7 linked regions of the Homo sapiens genome follow. The protein of the gene in region 7 interacts with the protein of the main gene of each other region in a pairwise test. Each region holds a gene or a part of one and is shown on either strand. Other genes may lie near its edges.

The links.
Region 1: the proteins of AKAP8L (region 7) and SH3RF2 interact in binary tests that used the Homo sapiens proteins (3 or more experiments, as listed by UniProt).
Region 2: the proteins of AKAP8L (region 7) and SAXO1 interact in binary tests that used the Homo sapiens proteins (3 or more experiments, as listed by UniProt).
Region 3: the proteins of AKAP8L (region 7) and PEF1 interact in binary tests that used the Homo sapiens proteins (3 or more experiments, as listed by UniProt).
Region 4: the proteins of AKAP8L (region 7) and TIAL1 interact in binary tests that used the Homo sapiens proteins (3 or more experiments, as listed by UniProt).
Region 5: the proteins of AKAP8L (region 7) and ZNF366 interact in binary tests that used the Homo sapiens proteins (3 or more experiments, as listed by UniProt).
Region 6: the proteins of AKAP8L (region 7) and HDAC3 interact in binary tests that used the Homo sapiens proteins (3 or more experiments, as listed by UniProt).

What each region holds. Positions count from the first base shown.
Region 1 is NC_000005.10:145,998,821-146,003,028, forward strand, and holds part of SH3RF2 (E3 ubiquitin-protein ligase SH3RF2), read left to right. Parts: intron 1-1,237; coding exon 1,238-1,507; intron 1,508-4,208. UniProt on the Homo sapiens protein: Has E3 ubiquitin-protein ligase activity. Acts as an anti-apoptotic regulator of the JNK pathway by ubiquitinating and promoting the degradation of SH3RF1, a scaffold protein that is required for pro-apoptotic JNK activation.
Region 2 is NC_000009.12:18,945,888-18,950,095, reverse strand, and holds part of SAXO1 (stabilizer of axonemal microtubules 1), read left to right. Parts: intron 1-2,388; exon of another isoform or gene 2,389-2,519; coding exon of another isoform or gene 2,520-2,551; intron 2,552-4,208. UniProt on the Homo sapiens protein: May play a role in the regulation of cilium length. Stabilizes microtubules at low temperature.
Region 3 is NC_000001.11:31,631,872-31,635,334, forward strand, and holds part of PEF1 (peflin), read right to left. Parts: coding exon 3,351-3,463; intron 3,073-3,350; coding exon of another isoform or gene 2,975-3,072; exon of another isoform or gene 2,795-2,974; intron 2,622-2,794; exon of another isoform or gene 1,444-2,621; coding exon 1,288-1,443; exon of another isoform or gene 768-1,287; coding exon 624-767; coding exon of another isoform or gene 565-623; intron 1-564. UniProt on the Homo sapiens protein: Calcium-binding protein that acts as an adapter that bridges unrelated proteins or stabilizes weak protein-protein complexes in response to calcium.
Region 4 is NC_000010.11:119,586,497-119,590,704, reverse strand, and holds part of TIAL1 (nucleolysin TIAR), read left to right. Parts: intron 1-2,456; coding exon 2,457-2,553; intron 2,554-4,208. UniProt on the Homo sapiens protein: RNA-binding protein involved in alternative pre-RNA splicing and in cytoplasmic stress granules formation. Shows a preference for uridine-rich RNAs.
Region 5 is NC_000005.10:72,458,497-72,462,704, reverse strand, and holds part of ZNF366 (zinc finger protein 366), read left to right. Parts: intron 1-1,194; 5' UTR 1,195-1,208; coding exon 1,209-2,540; intron 2,541-4,208. UniProt on the Homo sapiens protein: Has transcriptional repression activity. Acts as a corepressor of ESR1; the function seems to involve CTBP1 and histone deacetylases.
Region 6 is NC_000005.10:141,630,195-141,634,402, reverse strand, and holds part of HDAC3 (histone deacetylase 3), read left to right. Parts: intron 1-4,208. UniProt on the Homo sapiens protein: Histone deacetylase that catalyzes the deacetylation of lysine residues on the N-terminal part of the core histones (H2A, H2B, H3 and H4), and some other non-histone substrates.
Region 7 is NC_000019.10:15,384,220-15,388,427, reverse strand, and holds part of AKAP8L (A-kinase anchor protein 8-like), read left to right. Parts: intron 1-4,208. UniProt on the Homo sapiens protein: Could play a role in constitutive transport element (CTE)-mediated gene expression by association with DHX9. Increases CTE-dependent nuclear unspliced mRNA export.

The sequences.
Region 1 (4,208 bases), on a different chromosome or scaffold from region 7:
GAATCACTTGAACCCGGGAGGTGGAGGTTGCAGTGAGCTGAGATCACACCACTGGACTCCAGCCTGGCAACAGAGCAAGACTCCATCTCAGAAAGAAAAGAAAACAAAAAAGTTGTGTTTACACTATGCTGTAGTCTATTAAGTGTGCAATAGCATTATGCCTAAAAAACAATATATCTAACTTAATTTAAAATACTTTATTACTAAAAAAAAAACCTTAATGATGATCTGAGCCTTCAGCAAGTTGTAATCTTCTTGCTGGTGGTGGGTCTTGCCTCAATATTGATGGCTTGTTGCTTCACCTTGCATTTTTATGTTATAGAGACAGCTTCTCTTCTTAAACCTCAGACTATCTCTGCCAGCTTCAAACTTTTTTTCTGCAGCTTCCTCATCTCTCTCAGCCTTCATAGAATTAAAGAAAGTTAGGATCTTGATCTTGATTAGGCTTTGGCTTGAGGGTCTGTTGTGTCTGGTTTGATCTTCTACACAAACCAGTCAAACTTTCTCCATATCGGCAATAAGGCTGATTCACTTACTTATCATTTATGTATTCACTGCAGTAGCACTTCTGATTTCCTTCATGAACTTTTCTTTTGCATTCACAGCTTGACTGTTTGTCACAAGAGGCCTAGCTTTTGGCCTATCTCAGCTTTAGTCATGCCTTCCTCATTAAGATTAATCATTTCTAGCTTTTGATTTAAAGTGAGAGATGTGAAACTCTTCCTTTCACTTGAAAATTTGTAGGCAATTGTAGGGTCATTAATTGGCCTCATTTTAATATTTTTGTGTCTCAGAGAATAGGGAGGCCCAAGGAGAGGGAGAGAGATGGGAAAATGACCAGTTTGTGGAGCAGTCAGAACACAAACATTTATCGACGAAGTTTGCTGTCTTGTATGGGCAAAGTTTGTGGCGCCCCCCGAGACATTACAATAGTAACCTCAAAGATCACTGATTACAGATCACCATAGCAGATATAATAATAATGAAAGTTTAAAATATTTAAAGTTAATAACAGTTACCAGAATGTGACACAGAGACACAAAGTGAGCACATGGTGTTGGAAGAATGGCGCTGATAGACCTATTTAACACAGGTTGCCATAAACCTTTGATTTGTAAAAAACTCAGTATTTGCAAAGCATGTTAAAGCAAAGTACAATAAAAGGGGGAATGCTTGTATCTTCTGTTCCTCTAGACTCTAAGCTAAGTACATATCTTATTGGTCTGTGCCATTGCAGGTGCCTCGAGCAAAGGCCTTATGCAACTACAGAGGGCAGAATCCCGGTGACCTAAGGTTTAATAAGGGAGATATCATCCTTCTCCGGAGACAGCTTGATGAGAATTGGTACCAGGGGGAAATCAATGGCATCAGCGGGAACTTCCCAGCCAGCTCCGTGGAAGTCATCAAGCAGCTGCCCCAGCCGCCCCCGCTCTGCAGGGCCCTCTACAACTTCGACCTACGAGGCAAGGACAAGAGTGAGAACCAGGATTGCCTGACCTTCCTCAAGGTAGGATTCTGGGTGGCCACCAGAGTCACCTGGGACCACGTAGAGACCATAGCAGAACAGAGTTCCTTGTTTAATATTTGCTGATTTTAAAAAATTGTATTTTAAATATATTATATTATTGTTAATATTTTATTCATAAAAATATATTTTGTGCATAAATTACGTATGTATATATGTAGTGCATATATATGTAATATGTGTGTACAATTCAAACTACATGCACGTGAAATCTCTAGAGAAATCTACGAATAAGTGATAGAAGTCTGTAAGCCTTTTTTATTGTAATTACAAAAGTATTCACTCATTCATTCATTCATTTATCCTGAAACCATTGTAGAAACATTTGAAAATACAGATAAGCAAAACAAGGAAAATATTACACCACAATATAGATACAATCACTGTCAACAGCTTGAATAACACATTTGATTTATTCATTCTATCACTTTTGAGCATTTACTCCTTGAAGGCCCTGGGAATAGGACGTGAATAAGTCACAGTCTCTGCTCTCCTGGCAGAGTAATGGGAAGCACCGATACATGGACAGAAAATTAGAAACAATTTGATAACATGCTATGTAAAACTACAGCCTCTACCTCTTTATCATGTATGTGGCAGGGTATTCTTGCAACCAAGTTATGGTTACCTAATTCTACTCATTTACATTCTATCTTGTTGTAAACATCTCATTCAAAACACTCCAGACACACACAATAACATAATCGTGCCTTTCTACATAAATAACCTCTTACAAGATATATTTTTCAAACATTAATTACCCTAAGATTTCTTGTGCCTCTCTTTTTCATTAGATGATTCCCCACCATTTGCAATTAATGACAGTTGTACTAAAGTCTACACTACTTTAACTATCTGTATTCAGTATTTGTTATTCCATAAACATTCACATCTCTCATAGAAACCACAGTTGGAGTTATTTTCATTCTTGACTACTCGTGATAAGTAGATCAAATGTAAGTATAAAAAGTGGCACTGCTACAATAGCTTAGGCAAGGTGTTTCGTTTTACAAAATGTTTTTATTCCACCACTACCAGAAAGGAGATTTACTTCAGGTTTTCTCAAACTAGACAACCTCTCTGCCCTCCATATTTTGAGATAATGATCTTTATTATTGCCGTGGAACCTCAGAGCGAGACTCCTAAGGAAGGTCATTCTACAGCCCAAACAGCAAAGTGTAGACCTAGACTACAGCTAGAGGAAAGTCAGTTCAATTCCACAAATATTTATTATTTACTTTGTGCCAGGCATTAGACACACAGCTGGAGGAAGACATAAGGAAGTATCATCGTCTGCCTCTCTCACCCTTTCTGGGAATTTGTAAACTGGGGCACTTACTTCACACACTCATTCATTTCTTGAGCCCATCCATGTGCCAAGCTGGCCATTGGAGATAAAGTGATGAGTCATTGTTCTTACCTACACTGAGCTGGCAATCTAGTGGAAGAAACAGACATATAAATGGGAAATTATGACAAAGAAACCAAAAGAGAGGATTTGACCCATTCTGGAAGGCTGTGAAATACACAGACTTCTAGGAAATCTCATGGTCTAAACTCAGCATATCCAAATTAAACTCAAGATCTTCCTTCCCAAAGCTGTTCTTTTCCTAGTGCTTTCTAGCTCAGTAAATTGTGTAATTTATTCAACGTCATGTATTTATTCATGCATGCATGCATTCAATAAACTTATTGGCTGACTACTAAAAGGGAGCCACTGTGTTAGGTGCTAGGGAAAACAAAGATTAACAAAACAGACATAGGCCCTGCACACATGAAGTTTATAGTCAGATAGGGTAGACCGACATTAAAGAAATAATAACCTCCTGGCACGGTGGCTCACGCCTGCAATCCCAGCACTTTGGGAGACCGCGGCAGGCGGATCACTTGAGGTCAGGAGTTTGAGACCAGCCTGGCCAACATAGCGAAACCCCGACTCTACTAAAAATACAAAAATTAGTCAGGCGTGGTTGCGCGTGCCTGTAATCCCAGCTACTCAGGAGACTGAGGCAGGAGAATCGCTTGAACCCAGGAGGCGGAGGTTGCAGTGAGCCAAGTTCGCGCCATTGCACTCCAGCCTGGGCAACAGAGCGAGACTCCATCTAAAAATTAAAAAAGAAAGAAAAGGAAGGAAGGAAGGAAGGAAGGAAGGAAGGAAGGAAGGAAGGAAGGAAGGAAGGAAGGAAGGAAGGATAACCTATAAATGCATAATTGCACATGTGTAAGAGCAGGGGCCCCCAACCCCAGGACCACCGACCAGTACCAGTCCGTGGCCTGTGAGGAAACGGGCCGCACAGCAGGAGGTGAGAGGTGGGCAAGTGAGCAAACCTTCATCTGTATTTATAGCTGCTCCCCATGGGTCGCATTACTGCCTGAGCTCCACCTTCTGTCAGATTAGTGGCAGCATTAGATTCTCATAGGAGCGTGAAACCTATTGTGAACTGCGCATGCAAGGGATCTAAATTAGGTGCTCCTTATGAGAATCTAATGCCTGATAATGTGAGGTGGAGCAGTTTTATCTTGAAACCATTCCCTATCCTCTACCCTCTATCCCCACCTCCTACCCCCTGCATCTGAGGAAAAATTGTCTTCCACAAAACCAGTCCCTGGTGCCAAAAAGGTTGGGTACCGCTGTGTAAGAGGAAGCTAAGAAAGGGTATAATGCAGTAACAGATTTAAATTT
Region 2 (4,208 bases), on a different chromosome or scaffold from region 7:
CAGGGTTGGTCTATAAGCAAGGCTCTTGCAGAATCTGCCATGGACAACTCAGTTAGTGACCTGTGACTGGTGATCTAGTAGAGTGGAAACATCTTTGAGTGCAGTTGGGCAGTCTCAGATTGTATAGTTTTGTCCTTAGCTGAGCCCTGAAAGATTGATGTGTTCTCTGCCTTCCCGGTTCCTCATCCCTAAAGGGCAGGGTTGCTGTGAGGTGGAGATGATGGTGAATGTTGACTGTTCCAGCACAATGCTTGCACATCGGTGCCTCAGACCTGGTGACTTTTCTTCCTATTGCTCCCTTTTGCTTCATGATTTTGTGCTAGTAAAGGTCCCAGATGGTCTAGGTGAAGCAGAACCATTCTAATTCATTCTGCCTTCAGGTTTTCTCCAGAATAGGACTGGAAACATCTGAGACTGTGAGTTGGAGGTGCTCTTCTCTACACAATGCTGCCATCTTCTAGATCCACGGGAAGTCCAGTCTGGGTAATGGGGCAGGAGCACCCACAATGGGAGAAATGAGGCCAAAGGATTCCTGAGCTTAGTGGAAACCACTGGACAGGGGCTTGAGAATGAGAGGGAGTTGAGGGCCTTGTCTGATGCTTGACTTGAATCAGGCCACTTAAAAAAAATTTTTTTTTTAAAACAAGGTTTCCTTCTGTAGCCATGGCTGGAGTGCAATGGTGTGATCATCGCTCAGTGCAGCCTCGAATTTCTGGGCTCAAGTGATCCTTGCCCCTCAGTCTCCTAGTAGCTGGGACTACAGGCATGGACCACCATGCCCAACTAATTTTTAAACTTTTTGTAGAGACAAGGTTTTGCTATATTGCTAAGGCCAGATGATTATATTTATTCTAAGCATGTATCTTAAATGATTTGGTTTAAGTGCAGTGTTTGTGTGTCCTGATGTATTAAAACATTGTAGTTTATGCTGCTGTTTTTTCAACCTATGACTTATTAAACAATATGAACACTAAAGTTTGGGCTTCATTTTGCTGGGAAAACAGTATTCTTTGTCTCTGAGAGTCTAAAGACCATAATAAGAAGTGTGAACCATTTCTGAGCATTGCTTTTGTTTTAGGAAACCCTGGTCAACACCAAGTAAGAGTCCTAGGCACATGTATAAGGGACATGTAATCGGTAGGAAAGGGTGAGAGTAGTACTGAGGGGTGGCTTGCAAATATCTTGTTCGGTCTCCAGGTGTGGGTCTTTTTATCTCTTTATATCCAATTTGCAGGAAATGAAGAAGACTTTGTGAGATGTCTAGTTGGCTTCAGACACTGATATATTTCCTATCCTGAAAGTATAGACAGGGATGCTTTGAAGGTTGGTTGTTGCAGGTTGCTTTGTTAGCTGCCCAAAGCTTAGGAGAATGGGGACAAACCCTTGGTCTGGGGCGGAAGACCTGCCCCAACACCTAGCTCTGAGGCCCCCAGATGCAACTCCAGGTACCCTCCCTCCTCCTGATGGTGCTTCGCTAAACAAAAACTTACCCTCTGACCTGTCCTAAATTATCCTTGCCTTGTGTCACTTAAAACAATAAACATATCACCCAGAAGGCCCCTCTGCCCCTGCCGGAGTCAGAGTAACAATAAATACCATGTACATCAAATGTGGCTAAAGTAGAGGAAAGCAGATTCTGCAAGAATTTCCAAAATAAGCTGTTAATGAACATAAGGGCCTTAAAAAGAAAAAGTGGCAGGATCAAGGTTGTCCACAGGGAGGAAAAGGAGCAGATATGAATCTCTTTTTATTTCCTACCCTAAAAAGAGAAGTAAAGGGGAAATGAGTAGAAGACATCTGTGTTCTCTTTTCTACCACAATTTCATTATTTCTCAACCCTGTGCCTGCCATGATAGGCACTACTGTTCATAGACCGAGAACAAAATTATGCCACTGTCAGGAAATGTAGGGAAGCTACCATCTGGGTGTTCCCCTAGAGGCTTACAGGGGAAGGGATGCGTCAGCCCAGTGTCTGCACAGCCCAGTGTCTGCACACCCTTGTGTCTGTGCAGATTGTCGTCACCCCTCTGCTCTTAGCACTCTTATTACTGGAACATCCCACCCACTTCTTTATCTAAACAGTGACCCTGCTTAGTTTCTGAGGTTGGACATGAGGCTCCCACCTGCTGAATGAAAAAGTCACGTGGTCCAGGGCTTTGCTGGGTTTGGTGATTAAGCCCAGACACAAAAAAACACCTGGTTTCTGGAAAGGTTATCATCCCAGCGTGAGGCATGATTATAACTGCACACAACTCTTACTGACCATAAATCTTGGGGATTTACAGCAGGTGCCATGAGGGGAATGCTTGTGATTTCCAGCCATTCTTAGTGTGAAACTCTTTCTTGCAGCCCTTGGTAATTCTCTGGTGTAGAATCTGCCTTTACTTCAGATAGACCTGAGATCAATTTATGAATAAGAGGTTTGCACTTCCAGCCTCATTTCCCCATAGGCATGTCACCATGTAAAACACTTGGATCCCAATTTGAGACATTCTGTTAGCTAAACCAGCTCGCTAAAGATGGGCAAAATGAGCAGCATCAGAAGAAAGAGGTGAGTCTTCAATGGTGTTAGACGTTTATCCTAAAGGGAGTGGGACCATGGGTAGAGTGGAATGGAGGCACAGAGTGAGGAGATAGAATTGAGTTCAGACTTGATGGGTGTGGCTGAAAGGCAGACGGCAGGGAATTGGTAGCATCGACTCTATCACTTATTTGCAAGACTCCTTGGTAAACCAAGGAGAGTAAGGGAGGGAAGAGCTAAGAGAGAAAGGGCATTTAGTATCCTCCCCAAAGGTCAGGAAAGAAACAAGAGAGTTAGTAGCAGGCTTGAGTCTTGCACTGCCCATTGAATTTTATATATATATTTTTTGTTCAAAGAGACACCTGACTCTCTTACTCAGAGCTGTACCACTGGGCATATACTTAGCCTCCATAGCCTGGGCCTGAGAATTAGTGTGAACACAATGTAGGTAGAGTTCTCGGCACTGGACTTGCTTGGGCAATCTCAGAGCCTTTGAATTGTCTATACTGTATTTCTGAGTAAATTTGTAGACATTTTGGCCATTATTTCTTCAAGTAATTTTTCTTTCACGGATGCTCTGTTCACTTCTTTTCCCCAATCTTTTCTCCCCGTCCTCTGTTCTTCAGATTGGATAGTTTCTATTAACCTAGTTTCAACTTCAAGTTTTTCTCCCTTATCTCCATTTTGTGATTAAGGCCATCCAGTGAATGTTCTACTTCACATATTTTGCAGTTTCAGAATTTGCATTTGATTCTTGTTTTATATAGTTTCTATTTATTTTACCTAATTTCCTATCCTTTAATTCATTATGGCCTTACTTTGCTTTCCTTAATGAGCATGGTTTAAAAAGCTACTTTAAAATCCTTATCTGCTAATTCCAATGTCTGGTCTGCTTGGAGTTGGTCTCCATAATTATCTTTTTTTTTTCTTTTTTGAGCATGGGTCAGATTTTGGGTTGATTTTTGTACAGTGAGAATGTTGCTACATTGTGGACACCTTAGATGTTTGTTTGCATTCCTCTAAAAAGTGTTTTTATCTTTGGCAGGCAGGTAACCTGATTTGATTTACAATGCAAACTCTGTGTCTTGGGTGGCCGCTCAAATCTCACTTCAGTTCTTTAGCTTGGAATCTACCCCATATATGTGAGGTTATGCAGAGATTTGGGCCCAGTTTATGTACAGAATTTAGGGCTTCCTGTCTTTGACTCTCTCATTTCCAGGTTTCTTTCCTCATTTTGCAGCATCCGTGGTTGCTTCAAACTTGGTCCTCTTTTTTTTTTTTTTTTTTTTTTTTTTGGTGAGATGAAGTTTTGCTCTTGTTGCCCAGGCTGGAGAGCAGTGGCACGATCTCGGCTCACCGCAACTTCCTCCTCCCGAGTTCAAGCGATTCTCCTGCCTCAGCCTCCCGAGTAGTTAGGATTACAGGTGTGTCCCACCACATCCAGCTAATTTTGTATTTTTAGTAGAGATGGGGTTTCTCCATGTTGGTCAGGCTGGTCTCATACTCCTGACATCTGGTGATCCGCCTGCCTTGGCCTCCCAAAGTGCTGGGATTACAAGCATGGGCCACCGTGCCCGGCCAGCCTTCTGGTTTTTGTAGTCAAGAAAAGGTGATTACCTAAAAGATCTGCCTTTTAGCTGCCCTCCCTTGCACAGACTGGAGCTGACCTTCAGGCTGGAAGCTTTGA
Region 3 (3,463 bases), on a different chromosome or scaffold from region 7:
ACTCTCTGGGGAGCCCTTTCTCCCTCCTGGGTGGCAAAGCTCCCTCTTGGGTCCTCCCCCAACCTCTTACTAACCTGCCTGAGCCCAAACTGTGGCCTTCTGCCTTACACAGTCAGTTTGGAACCAGACCTGGGGCTGTGGCCTCAGGTCATCTTCCCCAACTGCAACTTTTAGAGTGCTCAGGGTCCCAAAAGTTGGGAAAGAAACTGTCCACTAGCAGAGGTGGCAACAGACCCATCTTTCTGAGCCCTGTTCAGGGCTCTTTCCATTCTACATGCTAGAAACTGGAGAGAAAGGAGTCACCCAAGCCACACACACTGGTCTCATAGTCCTTAAGGTGCCAAGTTTCCATCCTTAAGGCTCCCTGTGGCTGGGGCCGTCTCACCCAGCACTCCAGGGTCCAGCCCTGATTCTGGACCCAGGTGTTTCCTTGCCCTGGCTCTTGGCTCAGTGCCCCAGCTGGGTCAAAGAAGGGGTGAGGGATGCAGGCCTGCACTGAGAACAGCATTTTGTAGTGCAGGTGGACATTCGGTAACAAGAGGAAACCCCTTTGTTGTATCTTAGGGTGTAAAGAGAAGAGTCTAGCTCTGTCCTGCCCATCGTGCCCCGGCCATGACCCGCACCTTGCTGCAGCTCTGTGTAGCTAATGGAGCCCGAGCGGTCCCGGTCATACTGCTGGAAGAGGTTCTTCCACTGCTGGATGAATTTCCACAGGGCTGAGAAGCCGTAGACATCGATGCGGCCTGACTTGGTCTTGTCAAACATGTCTGAAGGTGAGGAGGGAAAGGAGGGGAGGAAGGCTTCAAGACTGAAGGCCAAGGGTCCCCCTCAGGACCCATTGAGGCAGCCCTTCTCTCCAGGCTGGAGTAGGCGACTTCACAGAACCAAGCCCTGAGGCCCAGATGCCTGCACCTGAGACACCCACATCAAGCGTTGCACCGTCCTCCTACTCTGGACACCTTTAGCCCCACCCCATCCAGAACTGCATTTTCTCTGCAGGCTTGGCACCTGACCCCTCCCTGCTGTTTCCTACAGGGGAGGGAGTACCATTCTACAGAAGAGGAAACTAAGTTAACCTGTAACTAGGCAGGGTCTAGAACTTAAGAAAGATCTCAGGAAAAGAGCTCTCAGTCTAGGGGATCTCACCCTGAACCTAGCTTCCTCCCCACAGTCCTCCCTGGTCAATGAATTTCTCTTCAGAATGTCCACCCACCCACCTACCCACCTACTGTCCACTATCAGGTGGCTCTGCCCCAGCTCAGGCCCAAGGGCAAGGCGGAGACTCACTTATCATCATGAGGCAGGTCTCATCATTGAATGAAGACCAATTGCAGTTGACCAGGGCCTGCTTTAGCTCCTTCATGGAGATATAGCCACTGTGATCTGAGTCCACCGACTGGAACCAGGAGTAGGCCTCAGGATCCACATTGGGAGGGGCGCCACCTGGAGGAAGGGGTGTGAAGGCCATCAACAGAAATGCCAGGAAGGGCCAGCCTCAGTAACTTCCTGGCTACAGGTTTCTCCTACACACGAAGCTTCACAAATTCACCTTCCCTGTCTTCCATCAAGCTGACATTCTTACTCTGATGGAAGAGGACCTTCAGTGAAGATTCATGAGTATTTGCAGTTGATTTCTATTCCATGAGTCCTCTGGAGTTCTCGTATAGTGTTCCAGACACTACTCTTAATTGATTTTATGTTTTTAAGGAACGGGGACCTGTACCCCTGTAGCATTTCAAGAATTCTCTGGAAAAGGTAAACTGCGAGATGGGGGAATGGGTGGTAGATAAAAGTGTAGAAGTGGCCAGGCACAGTGGCTCACGACTGTAATCCCAGCACTTTGGGAAGCCGAGGCAGGCGGATCACCTGAGGTCGGGAGTTTGAGACCAGCTTGACCAACATGGAGAAACCCCGTCTCTACTAAAAATAGAAAATTAGCCGGGCATGGTGGCACATGCCTGTAATCCCAGCTACTGGGGAGGCTGAAGCAGGAGAATCGCTTGAACCCGGGAGGTGGAGGTTGTGGTGAGCCAAGATCACGCCATTGCACTCCAGCCTGGGCAACAAAAGCGAAACTCCATCTCAAAAAAAAAAAAACAAAAAAACCCAAAAAAAACAGTGTAGAAGCTGGTAAGTCTGTCTACCTTAGGACACTGAGTTAACTGGCCACAATCGGGGTCCCTTCACACAAAGACAGCCATGGGCAGTTGTGGAGGACAGAAACCACTGCCTAGTACCAAAGCCCAGTAAGGACAGAGGGAAAAAGGTATGCCTGACTTAGGGATTAGTCTGACTTCCTTGGAAAAATCCGGGCAGGTTCTAGCCATCTTCCTAAAACATCGGTGTCATAGGGGAGCAAGGGCCACAGCCCCAGGGCAGGAGAGATTCTGTGACATGTTTGAACTGTGTAGTTTGTATAGAAGGGCTCAGGCTTTGGAATCAAAGCAGACCTGGATTCAAACCCTGGATCTGATCCTTACTAGCTTGTGTGACTTTAGGCAAAATGTACAATTTTCTGAGTAATGATTTTCACATTTCTAAAATGAACCCATTTCCCCAGAATTGTTGTGATGATTAAATGAGATAACAGCAAAATAAAATCCTCAGCAAAGAGCCTGGAATGTGTGTCTTCTGAGATATTTTCACAGAGAAACGGATATTTAAACTGAGTTTCTCCCCATGGTAGGCTACATTATCGTCTCCTGGCTAATAATCTCTAGCCAGGAGACACAGTCTGCACACCCACAGACATTGTACTAATATGGTACAATGGTTTAAAAGGCCAGTTCAATAATCTATTATTAGATTACTTGCTAATCTCCCCTTCCCTATAAGAGCATTGTACATCCTCTCCCACTGCCTGGTGGCTTGCAGAGGGGCATCCTTTCCCATCCTACTGATGTCAGTCTTGATCAGGGGGTGCTCTGGCCAAAAGAATGCAAGTGGGCAAGACATACAGTACTTCAGAGAAGCTTTAAGAGGCATTGTGCATTCTTGCTAGCTCTCCTGCTCCTTCTCTCTGCCACAAAGATAACATATCCCAAACAGGAGCTGCTCCTTCAGCATGTATCCCTGAATGAAAAAGACACAGGGAACAGAAACTCAACAGCCAGCTAACAGCTGCTGACATGTAAGCAAAAGAAAGTAAGCATGAGCAAGCAATACAAATAAATGCTTGCAACAAAACTAGCTGACAAACTTATCATTTTGAGGATACACACTGAAGCTGGAAGCAAGATGCTAAGGTGCCAGAGACCAGGCTGCCTGCACACCCACAGGAAGGACAAAGGCTGGCCATGGATAACTCAGAACCACGTCAGAGGTACCCGGAGTCCAAGATTACTACTTACCCTGTCCATAAAGCCCAGGCTGCTGGGCACCGTAGGAACTTGGAGGTGGCTGACCATAGGGGCCCCCGGGAGCTGCACCGCCATATGGTCCTCCTGGAGTTCCAGAGGGGAAC
Region 4 (4,208 bases), on a different chromosome or scaffold from region 7:
GGAGTCTCACTCTGTCGCCCAGGTTGGAGTGCAATGGTGCAATCTCGGCTCACTGCAACCTCTGCCTCCCAGGTTCAAGCGATTCTCCTGCCTCGGCCTCCCGAGTAGCTGGGATTATAGGTGCGCGCCACCATGCCCGGCTAATTTTTGTATTTTTTGTGGAGACAGGGTTTCACCATGTTGGTCAGGCTGGTCTCAAACTCCTGACCTCATGATCCGCCTGCCATAGCCTCCCAAAGTGCTGGGATTACAGGCGTGAGCCACCATGCCTGGTCACTTGTTCATTTTTCTTACAGATAGGTCTACTCTGTACAAAAAGAAATCATTTCAGAGATACAGGCTCACAAACCCCTATGAGTTAAGAAGGGGCAAGCAGCCTATCGCTGGCTCATAACCCAATAACCTTTTAGTCCTGCTGGAAAAAGTATGTCACTACATTGGCCTGCTGATGGATCAGCTCCTTAATTACGTGGAAAAGGTGGCATAGTGGACGTAAAACAGTTTGTCACTTGTTTAGTCCTCTAGTTAGGTAATATTGGATGTGTGTTTCAATTTTAGAGCAGGTACACTAAGATTATTAGTACTCATTGCAATAAAATTCTTAACTGGAAAATCGCTACTAATTCTTAATTGGATCTTTTAAGTTTTTTACTTAACCTAAGCTTTCTCAGTCTATTTTTCCCTTTGAGTATTCCATCTTAAAGCATGTTGTGTATTTAATGTGGCAGCTATGTTGCAAGTCTTATTTTGGTCTTAATACTCAGTTTCCAGATGTAATATATTACAAGTAGAAAAAGAAATCTACTTTCCAGAATGAACTTTGTTAAATTTTACAGATATTGTTTGGTTTATGAGGTTGTTCATAACAGATGCAAATTTGAGGAATTATGTGTAGAATACCAGAAAGACTTTAGTGTTTGGCAATTTATTTAGATAAATTAAGATAAATCCATAGTACAAGACATAAACCAAGGTGGTCCTCTCTGTGTGATGAAGTAGCATTTTTTTCTTTTCTTTTTTAAACTTTCCTGTATTTAAAATCTTTTACACAAAACACATTCAATTGTAATTAGGAAAAAAAACCCAAATTTTTAAGTGTCCATAGTCAAAAGTATGCCTGGATTTGTCTTAGTTTTTCTCTGAATTTCTTAAGAAATCTTTGTATTAGCTTTTTTATCTACATTAAGATATATTTTGTTGGCTGGGCATGGTGGCTCACTCCTGTAATCCCAGCACTTTGGGAGACTCAGGCAGGTGGATCACTTGAGGTTAGGAGTTTGAGACCAGCCAGGCCAACATGGTGAAACCCCGTCTCTACTAAAAATACAAAAATTAGCCGGGCGTGGTGGTGCACGCCTGTAGTCCCAGCTACCTGGGAGGCTGAGGCAGGAGAATCGCTTGAACCTGGGAGGCGGAGGTTGCAGTGAGCTGAGATCATGCCACTGCACTCCAGCCTGGGTGACAGAGTGAGACTCCATCTCAAAAAAATACATATATATTTTGTTGATTCTGATGCATTTTAGACTAGGAAATTTTATATTTTACCCTGCTCTCCTAAAATGAAACAGTGAAGACATCATTGCAAACAACCTTACTCAGCCAAAAACAAAACAACAAAAACCCTCCACCCTCTGTATGTTTTACTATAACTTTAATTCTGTTCTTTGTTCATGTAATTGCTTTGGTTGGGAATCTAAGATAAACTCACTTTATGTTTAATATCCTATTACAATCAGATGTTTTAATGAATTAGTATTTGTTGTATGTGTGTGTGTGTTATAAATTATTTTTAATTAGAAATTGTAGTTATCTTGAGACCAGTTTAAAATTTTAACAATTAGAATAAGATGAGAAAATGATATCCAGGGTACAGAATAATAATGCCATTGGGGTATACAAGATCACATTGATTTGTTCTTTAAATGTCTTTCAGAGTGGTATTTTAGTGGCCTAAGAACAATTGTTGCTTTCCTAAATAAGGGTTAATCTTACTTTCATAGGATCAGGTTTAATTGGAGAAATTTTGTTGAAAACAGAGGAAGTTAAAATGAAATAAAAGGTGGCCGGGCGCAGTGGCTCACGCTTGTAATTCCAGCACTTTGGGAGGCCAAGGCGGACAGATCACCTGAGGTCAGGAGTTCAAGACCAGCCTGACCAATACGATGAAACCCTGTCTCTACTAAGAATACAAAAATTAGCCAGGCATGGTGGCATGCGCCTGTAATCCCAGCTACTTGGGAGGCTGAGACAGGAAAATCGTTTGAATCTGGGAGGCGGAAGTTGCAGTGAGCTGAGATCATGCCATTGCACTCCAGCCTGGGCAACAAGAGCAAAACTCCATCTAAAAAAAAAAGAAAGAAAGAAAGAAAGAAAGAAAAGGTGATGAATTAGATGATAACACATTAGAGCCAGAGCTAAAGGAAAAATTGCTGATAACGTATTTTTTTCTTGTGCAGATACGTAGGTAACCTTTCCAGAGATGTGACAGAAGTCCTTATACTTCAGTTGTTCAGTCAGATTGGACCCTGTAAAAGCTGTAAAATGATAACAGAGGTAAGATCTTCCCAGTTCCATGTGCTGACAATTAGCATGATGGGTTGATTAGCATGATTTTAAAATTTCATTGTAAGCCTCAAGTTATTCTGGTGGAGAGATTTGTGTTGTGTTGACTTATTACTTTGATTTGGCTGACAAACTAGGCTTAGAATGGAGTTTTATTTAAGAGGGCAAAGTTTCCGTGCTGTTAAGCTCAAACGGTCATTCTTCATGGTGTGGTTATCTTGAAGTGATTCTGCTTTCAGAACATTATTAGAGCTCATTTCAGAATGGTGAAAAATTGGAAAGTATTTCATACAATTCCAATAAGAATGTTAACGATTTAGACAGCATGTGTTCATGTGCGAGAACACGAAGTTATTATGTGTGTAGTGTGCAGCACCGTTCGTCTCGTGTGTCTGTAGCAAATACTTACCTTTTTATACTTTCCTGCTAAGACTGTAGCAGCACCCAATTAGTCATGTTTTAGGCTTTTCTTCCTTGTGTTTTTGTTCATTGATCAGCTTTCTTTTTTTTTTTTGGACTATTTCCTATGTACTAGATACTGCAGTAAGTGCTAGAGATACACTGGTGAATAAAGATAGTTCCTTGGCCCAGAGAATTTTACAGTTTAGTAGGGAGACAAAGGAGTTAGCAGGCACTTAGGAAGTAGGATAATAAATGCTCTAGAAGCAGACAACTTAAAGTGCTGTGGGAGCAAATGTGTATCCAGTGCAGCCTTAGGTCAGTGAGCGGCTTCTTGGAGGACTCACTGCCTAGGCGGAAACCTTGAAAGGATAGTAGTACATACTGGCTAGAAAGGAATTGAGGGAAGAAGGGATTCCAAATAAAGGGAACTTTGATCCAGGTTGGTAGGGAGAGCAGGAGTGCTTGAGACAGAGAGGGAAAAATAGAACCCGTAGCATGGTTGTAGTTAAAATGGAATTAGTCGTAAGAGATGGCAGGAGTTTATGGAAAGGGCTAGAAACTGTGCTAAAGAGTTTGTTTTATCCTGAAACGGAGAACTGTTAAAAACCTTTAAAGTGCATTGGCCTTTTGATTGTCTTTCCCAAGTAATGACAATCATCATTTTGTTCTGGTGTATTATATTTTTCCTTCCTGCCTTTAATTATTTATTTGTGCTTTCATCGATCAAAAATTTCCTTTGCACTAGGCACTATACAAGGTACTGGAGATATAATGGAGAGACAGCCAAATGAGTTTCCCAAGCAAATAGGGATGTAAGCCATGAAGAGAATAAAACAGAGTTCTGTGATGATTGGAGGGTTGGTGCTATATAGGCTAGGTGATGAGAGATGTCACCTCTTTGAGCTGAGATGAATAACAAGATGGTGCTATCTATGGTAAGAGCTGGAGGCAGAGGAAACAGCAAATACAAGTCTTGAGTTGGTAATGAACTTGTGTTTGTGGAATCAAAGACCGATGGCTAGAGTCTGGTGAGGGATGGAGGGGAGTTAAGGGAAATGAGTCTAACAGCAGGATTCAGAATCACAGGACATTATGGTCCATGACATAGTTTAGGTTTTACTCTGATTGCTGTGGCAGACCAGTGGAGGGGCTTAAGCAGGGGGATGAGGTGCCAAGATTTGCATATTTAAGCTTACTACTCTATGTAGAGAATGACTGTTTTATGGAGAATAGATTGTAGCGGG
Region 5 (4,208 bases), on a different chromosome or scaffold from region 7:
GTGGCGCACACCTGTAATCTCAGCTACTCAGGAGGCTGAGGCACAAGGGTCACTTGAACCCAGGAGGCGGATATTGCAGTAAGCTAAGATTGTGCCACTGGACTGCACTTCAGCCTGGGCAACAGAGCCAGACTCCATCTCCAAAAAAAAAAAAAAAGAAAGAAAGAAAGAAAGAAAGAAAGAAAGAAAGAAAGAAAACTGGCAAGGAGACGTGAAAAACACTGCCCCTTGTTCAGACTCTAGTCCCACCACCAGCTCTTTCAGACATGCCTATGTCTCAGGACACAGTAACTGGCTGTGTCAGCAGGGGACATGTCAGGCACCACAGGAGTCACCAAGCCTGCCCCTTACTTTGACACCTGTCTGAAAGGAGAGACCCATGTGCGGCTTTATTTCACATAATAAAGGAATATTTCATTCCAGCTTGCTTCAGGTTTAAGAGTGGAATGTGTACATTGCCAGGATGACTTTATAACATTGAGCTACTCAATATGCTTTTTAAAATCATGTTTATGTCATTCACTCCCTATGCCTTAGTAGCACACCTTACTCAGAGTGGATACTCAGAAACGATTAGATCTGAGTTAAGCATTAACATCCCTTCTCCTATGAGGCTTTGAATATCCTCATTTTCCAGCAGCAAAGGCCCAAGCAAGGGAGTAGCAGTGAAAATTGGTTTCCTTACACAAAGAAAAGACCCTAAAAGTCACTTTCCAATCACCATTAGTAGATGTAATTACAACTCAGATTGAAAAGCTGCAGCAGAATGGGTCTAGTGCTCACTCCTTCAGTGAGTACCTATGTAACTTGAGAATGTCATTTCATTTATCTGGACTTTGGTACCCTGATCTTAAATGGGGACAATGGCCAGATGAGTTCTCAGGTTTCTTCCCAAACTAGTCCACTTCCCTTGCTACCATCACCCCTTGTGGTTTTGTGGCTGGATTTACACTGGAGCCCAATTTGATTCAGCCCTAGGGTCACCCCAAGAGGCCAGTGCTATCCATATTGATAACTGGGTTTGCAAGGAGAAAGAAAAGCGATATTTTGAACAGCCCTAGGATAAATGAGGGTCCATATTAAGCAAGTACTACTCTTCATAAATTAGTACTGATAAATAGCCATAATCCTTAAGGAAAAAGAGAATTTTAAACAAAACCAAACCAAAACACACAAGTTTCTTTCTCTTTAAAGGAAAATTGCCAAGGATGCAGAAGGAAATGAAGATGATCAAAGACGAGGATGTGCATTTCGACTTGGCTGTGAAGAAGACCCCCTCCTTTCCCCACTGCCTGCAGCCAGTGGCTTCTCGGGGAAAGGCTCCCCAAAGACACCCCTTCCCGGAAGCTCTCCGAGGGCCATTTTCCCAGTTTCGGTATGAACCTCCCCCAGGAGACCTAGATGGGTTCCCCGGGGTCTTCGAAGGAGCAGGGTCTAGGAAACGGAAGAGCATGCCCACAAAGATGCCCTATAACCACCCTGCAGAAGAAGTCACCCTCGCCCTCCACTCAGAGGAGAACAAAAACCACGGCCTTCCCAACCTCCCTTTGCTGTTCCCGCAGCCCCCGCGCCCCAAGTATGACTCTCAGATGATCGACCTGTGCAACGTGGGCTTCCAATTCTACCGCAGCCTGGAACACTTTGGGGGCAAGCCCGTCAAGCAGGAACCCATTAAGCCCAGCGCCGTGTGGCCCCAGCCAACGCCCACTCCATTCCTGCCCACGCCCTACCCCTACTACCCCAAAGTCCACCCGGGCCTCATGTTCCCCTTCTTCGTGCCCTCGTCCTCGCCCTTCCCCTTCAGCCGGCACACCTTCCTGCCCAAGCAGCCCCCGGAACCTCTGCTGCCCCGGAAAGCCGAGCCCCAGGAGAGCGAGGAGACCAAGCAGAAGGTGGAGAGGGTGGACGTGAACGTGCAGATCGATGACAGCTACTACGTGGACGTGGGCGGCTCGCAGAAGCGCTGGCAGTGCCCCACCTGCGAGAAGTCCTACACCTCCAAGTACAACCTGGTCACCCACATCCTGGGCCACAGTGGGATCAAGCCGCACGCGTGCACGCACTGCGGGAAGCTCTTCAAGCAGCTCAGCCACCTGCATACCCACATGCTGACCCACCAGGGCACGCGGCCCCACAAGTGCCAGGTGTGCCACAAGGCCTTCACCCAGACCAGCCACCTGAAGCGCCACATGATGCAGCACAGCGAGGTGAAGCCGCACAACTGCCGCGTGTGCGGCCGCGGCTTTGCCTACCCCAGCGAGCTCAAGGCCCACGAAGCCAAGCACGCCAGTGGGCGCGAGAACATCTGTGTGGAGTGCGGCCTCGACTTCCCCACCTTGGCCCAGCTGAAGAGACACCTCACCACGCACCGGGGCCCCATCCAGTACAACTGCTCCGAGTGCGACAAGACCTTCCAGTACCCGAGCCAGCTGCAGAACCACATGATGAAGCACAAGGACATCCGGCCCTACATCTGCTCAGAGTGTGGCATGGAGTTTGTGCAGCCGCACCACCTCAAGCAGCACTCCCTCACCCACAAGGTACTGCGGGGCCTCTGGTGGGGCGGACGGGGCCTTGGGAAGAGGAGCGGGGCCCTGAGCAGAGCACTGGGGAGCAGGACGCCTGTGCCGCTCTGCACCTTACCCCGAGGAGGTGGGCAACCCCGGACAAGCGGTCCCTTGGCCGAGCCCTGAGGTCCTTCCTCACGTTTAAATAAGAGAGAACGATTCTCGACCAAGCCCTTTGCCCCAGCAGCCTTCTAGACTCTAAGGTAGGCCTAGAAATAAATAATGCAGACATTTGCAGAGGAGATGAGGAAGGATGCTCCCTAGCCTCCAAGAATCTTGCAGATTCGGTTTCTAGAAACTTCATCCAAGGCACTAGCATGAGTAAGTCATCAGACCCTAGATCAGCTCTGTGCCTGGGATGTGCCAGGGAGCACCTTCTGGATAATTCTCTTCGTCTTGTACTGTTGAAGCAGTGGAAAACTTTTTGGATTGTTTTCTCCCTCAACTGTGAGACCTGCTTCATATGCAAGTTCTCCAAGGGAAGCAGAGCTTGGCTGAGGCCGGCAGGGCCTATACCTCCCTGCGTTGGACCCGTGCCTAGCTGGGTGAAGTGCCCTGTGGTTTACATTGTAGGAGGCATGAGAAAGCATCCTTCTCTGTTTGGTTTTGTTTGATCTTCTCTGTGCTCAGGTCTTCAAGGGGAAATACAGGCCCAAGAGTCTGAGTTCAGCCCAGTTTGCAACCATAGCCCTGGAGTCATTCAGGCTGAACTAAAACAAGGCCCTAGTGGTGTTCCTGAAATCTTACCCCAGCTAAAGTATGGAACCTGCTCTGAGCCTCCGAGAGGGAGTTTTGCCCCCACTGACTCCCACTCTCACACCCTTAACCTCAAGTGGTTTTCTTGGCAGGAAAGACTTCTAGCAAGCCAGAGTTTCTAAAGCATTCTTTAATTCTGAAAGGTCAGGAGAGGACTTTGCCCAGCCAAGATAATGTTTCTGCTGTGCTATAATACGTTTCACTTCTTAGGTTAGGACAAAACACAGGGTATTTTCTGGCTCTGCCACAGAGATGAAATGTGTGGCTGCCTTGTGGGCTCTGCACAAACAGCTCCTGCCCTACAAAAGGTACCTGTAGATACTATCCAGAGGGGAGTCGCCTGCCAAGTGCAGGAACCATCAACAAAGGACCCAGACTGGGATTCAGCCGTAAAGGGGACCATTCGCTAACTTCAGGGGCTCCTTTATATGTGGGAAAGGAATCAAAAGTGCATTTTAGAGCATATGAAGATCCTGTAAGATGGTAGAAAATGAAGTCAAAATGGGAGAAACAGCCTGGTGTCTGAAATAAGTTTCATTTGAATTTTAATTAAAACAAAATACACTTTAATGAGAGGTGTCAGCAAACAGTGAGAGGTAGTATTTGTTGAACACTTGCTATATGACAGGTGTTTCACTCTTCATTTAATCCTCATTTACTTCTCAACAACTCTAAGAGCTACTCCCGATCTGCAGTTGAAGACACTGAGGCATGGGAGGTCACTCAGGAATCTCTGACACAGGCACCTGTGCCTTGGCCACTCTACAGTGAACACTTCCTCTTTTCCACCTGCTTCCCTGTTCGCACCCCTGACCACCTGACAGGCTCCGACTCTGTGATTCCACTGATCCTATCAGAGAGACAACAGCTTCCTTTGTTGCCTTA
Region 6 (4,208 bases), on a different chromosome or scaffold from region 7:
AAGTATAGCAGGCAGTAGGGACAAGTGCTAAGGGTCTGTGGTAGGACTGAGTATGACTCATTTGAGGAACAGAAAAAAGGCCAAGTGCAGAGTATGAAGAGGAGGTGAACTGAATTGAGGCTAAAGAAATAGGACCTTTTAAAAGCAAACAGCTCTATTATGAATTGGGGTTTTTACCCGTAGAGTAGAGGGAAGCTATCAAAGTGTTTTAAAAAGCAAGGGATCTTAAGAGGGCTATGGGCAGTTAAAAAAACAAAAAAAACAACGAAGGAGTGGTTTGATATCATTAGGTTTACATTGAGCTTGTATCATCCATAGAAGAGTCAGGGTTAGACCCTCTGGGGAAGAGAGTGGACAACAAAGATAAGCCACACTCTACTCTATATCCATGAAAAAATAGTAACCATCACAGCTACCAGTTGCTCAATTCTACTTACTTTTGTTTTTAAACTTTTTATTAGGGAAAATTTCAAAAATTTCTGAAAGTGAAGTAGTGCAGTGACCTCCCATACGTCCATCACCTAGCTTCAACGCTTATGAGCAAATGGCCACTCTTTTTTTTTTTTTTTTTTTTTTTGAGACAGAGTCTCACTCTGTAGCCCAGGCTGGAGTGCAGTGGTGCAGTCTTGGCTCACTGCAACCTCTGCCTCCTGGGTTCAAGCGATTCTCATGCCTCAGACTCCCGAGTAGCTGGGATTACAGGCGCCTGCCACCATGCCTGGCTAATTTTTGTATGTTTAGTAGAGATGGGGTTTCACTATGTTGGTCAGGCTGGTTTTGAACTCCTGACCTCAGGTGATCCACCAGCCTCAGCCTCCAAAAGTGCTGGGATTACAGACGTGAGCCATCGCACCCAGCTGAGCAAGTGGCCACTCTTACTTCATCTATACTCCCTCATGTTAGATTGTTTTAAAGCAGATCCTAGATGTTATATCCTTTTATCCATAAATATTTTATTATGTATCTCTAAATGATACTCTTTTAAAAAAACATAGTATCATTATCAAACCTAAAAAGTTAACAGTGATTCCTTAATGTCATCAAATATGGGATCAATATTCAAATTTCTGCAGTTGTCTCATAATTATTTTGTAGCTAATTTAAATCCAGATCTAAACAAGGTCTATACAGTGCATTTGGTTGATATGTCTCTTAAGACTTTTAATTTGTAGCTTTTCTGTCACCCCCTTGAATTTATTTCTTGAAGAAACCAGGTTGTTGATCCTGTAGAATTTCTTATGATAGCTACCATTTACTGAGTGCTTACTCTGCTAGGTATTATGCCAAGGGTTGCTGGTAAATCCACTTAATTCTCATACCAATCCTTAGATGTATTATAATAGACCTTTTTCTGATGTTATATATAAGTAAATTGAGGTTTGGGAATATCTAGGTAACTTAGCCGTAGTCACATAACTGGTCATTGGAGGGGGCATGATCCAGATCCCGGGTTTTTAAACCACTAATCTGTTTTCCTGAAAGATCTTAATGACAGAAGCAGCCAGGGCTGTAGGATAGAGGCCAACTCATTAGGCTGGCATTGGCACCTTTCCAACTTTATCCCTACACCTCAGCTGCACAGGATGCCTTCCTGGAATGCCCTTAGTTCTCTATTCAACCTCTTCAAGGCCTTCTCAGCCTTCACACCATCTCCATGAAACCTTTCTTGACCACACCAGCCCATAGAGCTCTGTCTTGCACACACTGCACTGCTCATTTGGTGTTCAGTCACATGCTGTTTGGGGAGGTTTCTTGTTTTTTTGTTAGTATTCCTGCTGTTATTTCTGAGCTCACTTTCTAGCTCTGTGAATACAGGGTCAGCCCTTACGCCACACTGGGGTCCCGTAGATGCTCTTTGTGCGATTAGGGAATGCTAATTAGAATACTATCTCTGGGCTATTTATGCTGCATCAGTCTTCCTGTCAAACAAGTTACAGTTGTGCTTATCTGTATTTCCGATGAGAATCAGGAATTTTTCTTCTGTTTAATGAATTTCTGATTGGTTTCAAAGTATTCTAACATAAGTAGCCAAATTGTACTATAGGCCTTTAAATGAAAAAAATAAAAAAGTAGTCCCAAGCCGGGCGCAGTGGCTCACGCCTGTAATCCCAGCACTTTCGGAGGCCGAGGCGGGTGGACCACCTAAGGTCAGGAGTTCAAGACCAGCCTGGCCAACATGGTGAAACCCCATCTCTACTAAAAATACAAAAATTAGTCATGTGTGGTGGCACGTGCCTGTAGTCCCAGCTACTCCAGGAGGCTGAGGCAGGAGAATTGCTTGAACCCGGGAGTTGGAGGTTGCAGTGACCTGAGATTGCACCACTGCACTCCAGCCTGGGCAACAGAGTGAGACTCTGTCTTAAAAAAAAAAAAAAAAAAAAATTCCAGACCTCTCCTTTTCACCCATAAATCCCTCTGCCCAGTGACAGCCACTTTCAGCTCCTTTCCCCTATGTCTTCTGGTATTTACCTTTGGATTTCTAAATAATAATATTAATTGACTGTTATTACTAATCTGTAATCCTTAGGTAATACCTGTTATATACTAGGTACTGTTCTAAGTGCTTTACAGCCATTAGCTTATTTAATCTCAACAACCCCTATGAAGCAGGGTCTATTATTGTTTCCTTTTACCGATGAGGACACTTAAGCACAGAAAGGTTAAACAGTTTGTACAACCTCACTATCATTAGTAGGTGTTAAAGAACCTAGGTAGTCTAGCTCCAGAATCGGTGCTTGTAATCATACTCCCCTCCTGTATTGTCTCTCATTGCTATTTCTTCGTCTGTCAATTTTAGGCATTATCTGTTAAGCTTTTAGTATGGGATATGAGCATTTAGTCTTCTTACACCATCACATTGGCTTCCTTTCCCCTTTCAGCTTCATAGTAATTTAAAAATAAATCAGTATTCTGTGTTTACATTATTATAACTCTGAAAGATTCATTTACTATCAAGCCAAATAGTGTAGTGTGATTTAATCTATTTTCTTCTAAAGCTTTTTGTTTTTCCTGGAGCTGACAATTGCATTATTTTTTCATTTGCTTAGTTTTCTGGTATTAATCACTAATTCTTTCCAAGCCTTTTGAGAAACTATAAAACCCTACAATTCTTGCTTGAACCCGGGAGGCGGAGGCTGCAGTGAGCCGAGATCGCACCATTGCACCCCAGCCTGGGCGACAGAGCAAGACCCCATCTCAAAAAACAAACAAACAAAAAACCCCTACAGTTCTGTTTTTCACATGGTCAAATGTATCAGCTGCACTATTTTTTTTTTTTGAGACCTAAAACTAGGGATTGCCTAAGCCTTTCCTTTTTAAAAAGTCAGGTTTATATAGGTATAACTTGCATACAGTAAAATTAACCTTTTTTAGGTGTAAGAGTTCTGAGAGGTTTGATAGAATATATCAAGGTATAGGGCCAGCGCCGATGGCTCACACCTGTAGTCCCAACAATTTGGGAGGCCAAGGCGGGAGGATCACTTAGGCCCAGGAGTTTGAGACCAGCTTGGGCAACATAGTGAGACCCTGTCTCTACAAAAAAAAAAAAAAAAAAGGTATCAAGGTACAGGAAATTTCCACTACCCAACAAAGGTCACTCACCCTTTTGTAGTTAATAACTTCTCTGCAACCTAGATCCAGCCAACTACTGATAAGATGTCTGTCCTTGTATTTTACCTTTTCCAGAATGTTACATAAATGGAGTCATACAGTAAGTAGGCTTTTGTGTCTGGCTTCAAGCCTTTACTTTTTATAAAGAATAACAATGGTAATAATTATAGCTGACATTTATTAAAGGCTGAGCGGATACTGTATACTGTGCTACAGGCTTTTCGTGGGTTATCTCATCACTGTTTCACATATGTAGGTATACAGTTCTTTCTTTAAAATATGTGACTGAAAAATATTATTGAACATTATGCTAAAATTTGTTACACTGAGAAGACTAAGAAAAACAGAGCTCATGTTTTCTTTCAACTGATTTCCTTTTTACATTGTACTTGAGTACCTGGAAGCTGCTTGCTTCTTTCCGCAGCTAGGATACAAACTCCCTGACAGTTAAGTGCTTCTTTACTTCCCATCCAGTGCCTTGCACAGGGCTTGGTACATGGTTTGGTCCAAAATATTTGTTGAATAAATTTGCAGATAGCCCACGTGTGTAGGAGAGGGAGAGAAGGTTCTTGAAAAATGGAGATTGGAGGAATCTAGGA
Region 7 (4,208 bases):
TTTGTTGAATTTGACATCTGTTCACTGTCACAGGAAGTTTCTATTGTCTGCTTTTTCATCTGTGCCTGGGTCAGAGTTTCCTTTGGATGTCTCATAATTTTTCACTGTTAACTAGACATCTTAGATAATTTGTTGTGGCAACTCTGGGCACTGATCCCCCACCCACCCTCCCAGGGTCTTGTTACTGTATTTGCTTGTCTATTTGTTTAGTGACTTGCTAGATTTTTTTAGTTAGGTCTCTTTCATTCTCACACAGTATGAAACTGGTGGTGTGTCTTGGAGGGAGGAAGCCATGGGCTCGCTCTTTTTCCCAGACCATACTCAGCTGTTAAACTCTACCAATTGCTGGCTGATTGCTTTATTGTTTTCAACAATGTTTTGGGGCATAGATTGCTGCCCAATCTGATCCAATTAAATTTGGGCTCCTTTATAGGGATTTTTTTCCCCTCCCCTCCCCGCCCCCTCTCCCAGACAAGAGTCTTGCTCTGTTGCCCAGGCTGGAATGCAGTGGCGCGATCTTGGCTTGCTGCAACCTCCACCTCTCAGGTTCAAGCAATTCTCCTGCCTCAGCCTCCCGAGTAGCTGGGATTACAGGCATGTGCTACCACGCCCGGCTAATTTTTGTATTGTTAGTAGAGACGGGGTTTCACCATGTTGGCCAGGCTGGTCTCGAACTCTTGATCTTATGAGCCACCCACCTCAGCCTCACAAGGTGCTGGGATTACAGGCGTCAGCCACTATGCCAGGCCCAAGAGGGATGGTTTTTGAGGTGGTTGTTTGAGATTTATTCTGAACCCAGGGAGTCTGTTCTTAGCTATTTCACTGGTCCTTGTCCTCTTTGGTAACCTAGTTAGCCTATGGGTTAGCTAATATCACTGTCAAATCTACCGGTCCTTCTTTTTTATGGCTGTGTGGTGGGGGAAAAAAAAAAGGACAAAGCTATCAGTGTTTAACTCCAATAAATATTCAGAAAGAAAAAAAAAAGCTATCAATGTCCTTTTAATTTTTTTCCTCCCTAGTCTCCATTGTTTTTGAGAGAGGCCCTAGTCTTGCACTTCCCAACACTCTTGCCAGTGAAGTCAGTCAGTTCCTTTGAGATTGGGAGTTTACTGATTTAAGGCCGTGCTCTCACTGTGGGCAGAATCTCTGAGCCAAGGCTCTGGGGATGGAGACAATGGAGTACCTCTCTCTGAGTGACTCTGCCACTTTAGGAGAGACATGGGAGGAGGTACAGTAGGCTGTAGCCTCCGGTCTTGGTTTGCCTTTCCTGGCATGGGACCTCTGCTTTATGAACAAGCCATGGGTATGTGAGCCCTTATATTCTTAGTGTGCCATGCCCAGGGTCAAGCCTCCATTCCACGTGCGTGTGGCTGGGTAGAAGATAGGAACCGTTCTCTCTCAGCTATGCTTGTCTAGAACTTAGCCTCATCAGCAGGTAGCTGGGGGCGGGATGAGAGATACTGACATCCGGCTGGGTACAGTGGCTCACGCCTGTAATCCCAGCACTTTGGGAGGCCAAGGTGGGCAGATCACCTGAGGTCAGGAGTTCAAGACCAGCCTGGACAACATCGTGAAACCCCATCTTTACTAAAAATACAAAAATTAGCCGGGCTTGGTGGCGGGCACTTGTAATCCCAGCTACTCGGAAGGCTGAGGCAGGAGAATTGTTTGAACCCGGGAAGTAGAGGTTGCAGTGAGCCGATATCACGCCATTGCACTCCAGCCTGGGCAACCAAGAGTGAAACTCCAACTCAGAAAAATAGATGCTGACATTCTGTTCCTCCTGGGAAGATATCATACCCCTTAACTGAGATGATCTGGGTAGATGCGGGCAGACCTGTCTTCTTGGCTGTACTGTCTGGAGTGGAGTTTCCATCACACTAAGCTGGGGGAGGCAGGGATGCAATAGGTTGTGTTTCAGACATCACAACTCTTCATGGAACTGAGTTTTAGTAGCTTTTCCTCATTAAATCTTTCTCATAGGGCTGTATGTCCTTAGGAACATTTTCAGAGACTTTAAATGGTTGTTTTTTAATACTTTTCATCAGTTTCACTAGGGAGTGTTCCAGGGAACGCCTCAGACTGCTATGCTAGAGTCTGTCCTCTCAATATTTAGGAAGCTTCTTAAACCTTAATTCCAAAATTCTGATAAAGATGATACCAAAATGAAACTGTAGATTAGTTTACTATTATTAAAGATATGAAAGTGGGCTGGATTGGCCGGGCGCGGTGGCTCATGCCTGTAATCCCAGCACTTTGGGAGGCCGAGGCAGGCGGATCACGAGGTCAGGAGATCAAGACCATCCTGGCTAACACGGTGAAACCCCATCTCTACTAAAAATACAAAAAATTAGCCGGGCGTAGTGACGGGCGCCTGTAGTCCCAGCTACTCGAGAGGCTGAGGCAGGAGAATGGTGTGAACCCAGGAGGCGGAGGTTGCAGTGAGCCGAGATCGCGCCACTGCACTCCAGCCTGGGCAACAGAGTGAGACTCCTCAAAAAAAAAAAAAGAAAAAAAAGAAAGAAAGTTGGCTGGATATAGTGGCTTATACCTGTAATCCCAGCACTTGGGGAGACTGAGGTGGGAGGATCATTTGAGCCCAGGAGTTCAAGACCAGCCTGGGCAATATAGTGAGACACTGTGTCTATAAAATTAAAAATAAAAAAATTAGCCAGGTACTGGGGCCTGTGGTCCCAGCTACTTGGGAGGCTGAGGTGGGAGGATCACCTGAGCCCAGGAGGTTGAGGCTGCAATGAGCTGTGATCGTGCCACTGCATTCCAGCCGGGGCAACAGAGCAAGACTCTGTCTCAAAAAAATAAATAAAATGAAGTGCTAAATAAAATATTAGTAACTATCAATCTAGTAGTGATCCCTATGTATGATACATTATAAGTAAGGTTTGTTTCTGGAATGGAGGGATGGTTCCCTAAGAAATCTAGCAACAGTTGCCGGGCGCGGTGGCTCATGCCTGTAATCCCAGCACTTTGGGAGGCCGAGGTGGGTGGATCACGAGGTCAGGAGATCGAGACCATCCTGGCTAACACGGTGAAACCCCATCTCTACTAAAAATACAAAAAATTAGCCAGACGTGGTGGCGGGCGCCTGTAGTCCCAGCTACTCGGGAGGCTGAGGCAAGAGAATGGCATGAAAGGCCGGGCGCGGTGGCTCACGCCTGTAGTCCCAGCACTTTGGGAGGCCGAGGCGGGCGGATCACGAGGTCAGGAGATCGAGACCATCCCGGCTAAAACGGTGAAACCCCGTCTCTACTAAAAACACAAAAAATTAGCCGGGCGTGGTGGTGGGCGCCTGTAGTCCCAGCTACTTGGGAGGCTGAGGCAGGAGAATGGCGTGAACTCGGGAGGCGGAGCTTGCAGTGAGCCGAGATCCCGCCACTGCACTCCAGCCTGGGCAACAGAGCGAGACTCCGTCTCAAAAAAAAAAAAAAAGAGAATGGCATGAACCTGGGAGGCGGAGCTCGCAGTGAGCTGATATCGCGCCACTGCACTCCAGCCTGGGCGACAAAGCGAGACTCCGTCTCAAAAACAAAAACAAAAAATCTAGCAATATTATTGGTATAATGCAAACTCTCTTTATGTGCAAATAATGTGATTATGCTCTTAGAAAAGCTGAATGATCCCAGCAAAATGTTCTTAGAATTAATAGAATTTGGTAAGGGGATGGGATTCAAAATAGCGTACAAAAAGTCGTAGTGTTTCTCTATTCTAGTATTAACCAGTTAGAAATTTAAATGGAAAAAAAACTACTTAAAATAACCACACAATGTATGAAATAGCTAAGAATACAGATTTAAGAAGAAAGACTTGAGGGCCAGGCATGGTGGCTCATGCCTGTAATCCCAGCACTTTGGGGAGGCTGAGGCGGGTGGATTGCCTGAGGTCAGGAGTTTGAGACCAGCCTGGCCAACATAATGAAACCCTGTCTCTACTAAAATACAAAAAATTAGCTGGGCGTGGTGGTGGGCGCCTGTAATCTCAGCTACTCAGGGGGCTGAGGCAGGAGAATCGCTTGAACCTGGGAGGCGGAGGTTGCAGTGAGCCAAGATCGCGCCATTGCACTCCAGCCTGGGCAACAAGAGCAAAACTCCGTCTCAAAAAAAAAAAAAACAGGGAGGGAAGAAGAAAGGCTTGAGATCTTTTAAGAACTGCAAATACTCCAAGGATATGAAATAAGACCTTAGCCGGGCACG